Regions from separate parts of the Homo sapiens genome. Here region 2 is linked to region 1. Evidence: fine-mapped expression QTL. Tissue or cell type: prefrontal cortex. Region 1 holds a variant in brackets; the other region holds the start of a gene. All regions are shown on one strand. Distances are from middle to middle. Region 1 overlaps LOC105374309 (a long non-coding RNA gene). Region 2 holds the start of LINC02012 (long intergenic non-protein coding RNA 2012).

The links. PIP is the estimated chance that this variant, and not a neighbour inherited with it, causes the effect. A credible set is the group of variants that fine-mapping cannot tell apart.
Region 2: LINC02012 starts here. The variant in region 1 is the best candidate, but not a certain one, in a credible set for the expression of LINC02012 in prefrontal cortex (CommonMind, PIP 0.86).

What each region holds. Positions count from the first base shown.
Region 1 is chr3:197,479,586-197,482,397 of GRCh38, forward strand. It overlaps LOC105374309 (a long non-coding RNA gene), which reads left to right. Exons shown (of 2, transcript XR_924902.1): 2 at 1-66. Among named protein-coding and RNA genes, the nearest start is that of LINC02012, 29 kb to the right of the region's middle. The variant T/C (reference allele first, on the strand shown) is at 1,409.
Region 2 is chr3:197,507,974-197,510,717 of GRCh38, forward strand. It overlaps LINC02012 (long intergenic non-protein coding RNA 2012), which reads right to left and starts at 1,688. Exons shown (of 1, transcript NR_145451.1): 1 at 1-1,688. BDH1 (3-hydroxybutyrate dehydrogenase 1) reads right to left here. Exons shown (of 8, transcript NM_203314.3): 8 at 1,810-2,744. RefSeq lists a silencer at 225-519.

The DNA.
Region 1 (2,812 bases):
CATACGCCCCCACTAATGTTCCCCATTTCAATAAAATAAATGGTTTTGGCTTAAGCCAAAAGCCTAGACTCCTCCTCGATTCCTCTCTTTCTCACATCTCCACAGCCAACCTATCGGCAAGACCTTCTGGCTCAGCCATCACAAGGTATCTCGAATCTGTCCACTTTCACTCCTTCTTCATTGCTGCCATGTGCTTCCAAGCCACCAGCATCCATTCAAACAACTCAGTTAGGTCTGTCCGTGGCCACCCTGGCTCTATGACAACCCATTTTCCCATACAGCATCCCGAGACCCTAGGCGACCTGGCTGCTGTCTACCTCTCCCACAATGAGCTTCTCTTCCTTCAGGTAAGAACTGGAATGTTACATGACCCTGTTCAATTTCATCAGTGTACTTAGAAGAATCAGCCATTTTAATACTCGTTCATTTGTGTTTGTTGTCACGCCTCCCTCATTTGATGAGGGTGGACCATGTCTTATTCTCTGCTAATTTGCCAGTTTGCATGTATGTTCATTTCCCAGGACACAGTAACAAAGTACCACGAACTAGGTGGCGTAAGATGATAGAAGCTTAAGCCAGGCATGATGGCACGCATCTGTAGTCCCAGCTACTCAGGAGGCTGAGGCAGGAGGATCTCCTGAGCTCAGGAATTTTAACTTAAAAAAAAATTTATTTCTTGCAGTTGTAGAGGTTAGATGTTGGAAATCAGGGTGTTGGTGGAGCCATCCCCTCTCTGAAGCCTCTAGGGTAGGATACTTCCTTGTCTCTTCTAGCTTCTGGTAACTGCAGGCTTTCCTTGGCTTGTGGCAGCATAAATCCCATCTCTGCCTCCATCTTCATATGGCAATCTTCCCTCTGTATGGATGGCTCTGTCCCTTCTCCTCTTCTTATGAGGACGCCCAACCATATTGGAGTCAGGCCCGCCCTGCTCCAGCATTACCTCATCTTAACTTGATTACATTGGCAAAGACTGTATTTCCAAATAAGACAAATTCACAGGTACCAAGAGTTAGGGCTTTTGGCGGGGATACAACTCAACCCATAATAATGTAGCATAGTAGACCTCAAAAACCATTTTAGAAATGAAGGAACAGTTTCAGTCAATAAAAATACAGTGAGCTCACTTCCAGAGCAGCAAATACAAGAACTTGGGGCTCAACATGCAGGTAGAAGGAAGACTGAGACTGTATAAAGCCTAAGCAACTCACTGGAAAGGGACATCCAAAGTAACCAGTTATTTGGCATTGCACGATTTTTTAGGCTCTTAGAACTGAATTTAAAATTTTTCCTAGTGATCTCAAAACACTAGCCATCAAGGCAGCCTGTAGCTTATAAATGCCTCTAACGATACCCTGTCTTTGGCTCTTCACAGAGGAGTGGGCATGTGTAATGGCTGAAGATACAAAAA[T/C]GCTGAGAAATGATGTGACTTTCCTAGGAAATGGCAGGGCTGGGATGGGGACCCAAGCTAGGCTGACTCCAGAACTTGGGTATTCAGAAAGGAAAGTGATTCTATACATAGATTCCATTAAACACACACACACACACACAAACACACACACACACACTACAAAAAAAGACTCTGTGATGAGGACCCTGTCACAGAACCCAAGAAGGATGAAATCTCAGGGGTGAGATTAAGTCTCAAATGACTTTAAGACAAAGCAGAACGTCCTAAGAGTGTCGCCACAAGTTCTAATGAAACTCAGATATGGGACTGTAAGTCTGTCTAGCTATGACCCTTAGGGAGAGCTTCATGGCAAAGGAAGGTGCGGAGTGGGGGAGGGAGATCTCTTTGATCTGGGTCTGGAGGGGAAAATGCAAATTTCACAGGTGAAAATGCATTCTGAGAAGAGGAAATAGCTTGAGCAAAGGAGATAGAAAGGATAAGATATATTTAGAAATATGGGGAACAGAGGAAAACATGGGCAAAAAGTGAGTTGGGACCATCAGCTGATTCTTCATGAGGACCCTTTAATGGGAGTAACACTGGTTTGGGGTTCCAGCCCCAGCTCAGGTCCCCCCGCCCTGGGCCTCTGGGCCTGTTTTCTCATCTGTAAATGAGAGCGTTTCCCAAAGATGCTAAGTGGGGCCTCATGTTCTTCAGAAAAGCTGCTTTAATAGGTTTTCCCATTCAACTGCCTGGTAAGACTTCATCTTAATGGCTGGCCAGGTGCGGTGGCTCACGCCTATAATCCCAGCACTCTGGGAGGCCAAGGTTGGTGGATCACCTGAGATCAGGAGTTCGAGACCAGCCTGGCCATCATGGTGAAACCCCCATCTCTACTAAAGATACAAAAAATTATCGAGGCATGGTGATATGCACCTGTAATCCCAGCTACTCGGGAGGCTGAGGCAGGAGAATCGCTTGAACCTGGGAGGCGGAGGTTGCAGTGAGCCGAGATCGTGCCATTGCACTACAGCCTGGGCAACAAGAGCAAGACTTAAAAAAAAAAAAGAAAGAAAGAAAAGAAAAAAAAGAATGGTTTTCATGCCTTAGAAATGTCTAAAAGCCATTGGTCTCAATAAACAAATTCCCTCTAACTGTATAATCCTATTTCTTTCTGCTGTAGGCCTGAGCGTTTGTCTGGTTTGTTATTCAAATGAAGCATGACTCATTTAGGATTTACCAGCTTGCTCCGAATTGTCTGTGGCTGTATTAAGTCATTTGACCTGTTTCCAGTGGAAAATCCATTTTTATTTACATCCTTAGGTGAAAGAGCCTGATGGGGCCAAAAGAGTGCTAGGGAGCAAGTCCGAAGCCCTGGCTCCGTGCTGTGATAACAAACATCATTCATAAAGAAGTATAGACCAA
Region 2 (2,744 bases), 28 kb after region 1:
AGGGCAGCTCCAGAATCCAGCTCTGCCTGCTTGGTCTTTGAATTCCTAGAGCCTGCTCTCGGGAATGGCCTTGACAGAGCCGACTTCCCGCTGGAAGGATACTGGGGGCTCCTCCAGCACATTCTCTCACAGGGGGCAGCACTTAGAGCCCAAAACGGGAAGGGAAGGAGGGTCTGGCTCGAGTGGCAGGACCCCATGGTTGCTACTGTGCGTAGGCTGAGAGTCTCCTCGCTGTTACGTAACTGAGGACTTCTTCCCTCCCTATTTTAGATCCTGCTGCCATCTGCCCTGATTTTCCGCATCACCAGCTCTGGGCTGGAGGTTAGATCTGGCTGGACACCCAGCTCTACCCCTCACTTGGTGACAGACTTGGGAAAGCCTGTTTCTGCAAAATAAGATAACCCCACCCTGCCTATCCTGCCTGGGTTGCTGTGAGAATCAGGTGAGAGGAAGCTGTGGTGGCTGGGTAGCAGGACCTGCACTTGGCCCCTGTGCCTGGTTGCTGTCTGGCCAACCCAACCTGGGGCTGCCTGAGCCAGGGGAGCCTCTGCTTGCTCATGTCGGCTCCTATATCAACACAGTTTGCACAGGTTTGCAGAGCCAGGCCCTGTTCGAAATACAGGCAGTGAACAGACCTCACAAATGGGGAGTCTTTGTCAGACCCCCTGCCATGGGTGGCAAGGGTGCAGACCTAGCAGCTTGTGACAGGCGGGGCCAGGCTGGCTGTCACCTGCTCACACAGCCTCTTGGCCCCGGGTGGAATGCTAAGCACAGCAGGTGCTCTGTAACAAGGCACTGTCAGGCGCATCTTGCAAGAAGCCCTTGCCCAGCCTCCAACCATCAGGGGATGGGTTTGTGCTGGCTGGAGTCACCAGACCATAGGTCCGCACAGGCAAAGGCCTCCTTCCTACTTACTCTGACAAGAAGGAGCGGCTCTCTGCCAGCAGACAAGCAGTGAGGGTCTAGGTGCCTGGTGACCCCAACTGGCTTTGCTTCCAGGGCTGTTGCGAGCCACAGTGTTATGTGATAGTGAAGAGTGCCACTCAGGAGACTTTTGTTCTGGCCCTGGTCCTGCCGTGGATTTACTGTGACACTGAGTGAGTCACTTTCCTTCTTTGGGCCTCAGTTATGTCATCTATAAAATGGGAATATACACCTGTTTTGTCCTCTCACTCTTTTTTTGTTTTGTTGTTGTTGTTTTGTTTTTTGAGACAGAGCCTCACTCTGTTGCCCAGGCTGGAGTGCAGTGGCATGATCTCGGCTCACTACAACCTCTGCCTCTGGGTTCAGTCGATTCTCCCTGCCTCACCCTCCCGAGTAGCTGGGGTTACAGGCGCCCACCACCACGCCTGGCTAATTTTTGTGCTTTTAGTAGAGACAGGGTTTCACCACGTTGGCCAGGCTGGTCTTGAACTCCTGACCTCAGGCGATCCGACCGCCTGGGCCTCCCAAAATGCTGGGATGACAGGTGTGAGCCACCGCGCCCGGCCACGCACTCTGGTAAAGACGAAAACTACGTCCTGCGCCCCGGTAGGTTCTAAGCTGCCGGAAAGTGAATGGTGAATATGAGGTTTGAGTTAGCACTGGAGTTATTTGGAGGGATGGTAGCCTGGGCTTTTCAATCACTGGAAACGATTAAAAGCCAGAACAACCTGCACAGGCCGGCCCAGCAGTTCTAGCTTACTCAGAAGATCCCAGTAGACGCACATGCAGCTTCTCTGACGTTCGGGTCTGCTGATGGGGACCCAGAGTATGTGGCCCTCCTTCCTCTAGTTCCCAGGCAGGGACGCACACGTGCAACTCCAAGGCTCCATCTATTTTCCTTTAATAAACTTCAGCACGGACACAAATTCGCCCAACATGTAAAAGTGCAATTCCGAAAGGATCCTGCTAGAACAAGGTCCACGGTACAAAAGCATCCTATGGTTATGTAACTGCAGCGGCCACCAAGCGTCCCCCTCTGGGCTCTGGAGGGTTTCGGCCCTGCCTGCCTCCCCCCCTCCTCCTGGGGCAGCTGGGACAGGGGACCCCTGTTTGAAGACAGCGGGGACAACGGCCCGGGAGGCAGCTGAATTGCCCATTGTGAGGCCCTTCTTCCTTGGCACTGCCTGAACCCCGTAGCCCACTCCGGCTGCCCGGGCTCTTCTGCCTTCTCCTGGCACCAGCCTCCGGGCCCGGGCCAGCTGCTAGGAGAGCGAGAACACTGTTTCTGAAGGGTGCTGCTTGCTTCTTTGTTCCCGGTTTCCGAAGCGCGAATCCCGAACGCCGTGAGAAACCTCAGGCTCGGGCGGCAGCGCGGGAGTCTGGGGCGCTGGAGGCCGGCGCCGGCTGCGGAGGAGGAGCGCCCTCTAGCGGCAGGTCCGCCCAGGGAGAGGCGGAAACGCGGAGTCTGATTCGAAGGCGGGCACTGGGGACCCTGCCCCGGGCCGAAAGCCCCCTGGAGGACAGTGGTGTTTGGCTTCGGTCCCAACATACAGGCCCTGGGCAGTCGCAGGGATGGCAGCTTTCAAACTGAAACCCAAGAAGTGATCATGCAGACCCTGCCTCAAGTGGCATCACTTCTTAATTGAAAAGAGGCCGAGGCGAGGCGGGAATGAAGGCCACGCTGAAGCCCTGCAGAACAGGGGTGTGTGTGTGTGTGTGTGTGTGTGTGTGTGTGTGTGTGTGTGTGTGTGTGTGTGTGTGTGTGTGTGTGTGTACATGTGTGTAAGGTGTGTGTGTGTGTGTGTGTGTGTGTGTGTGTG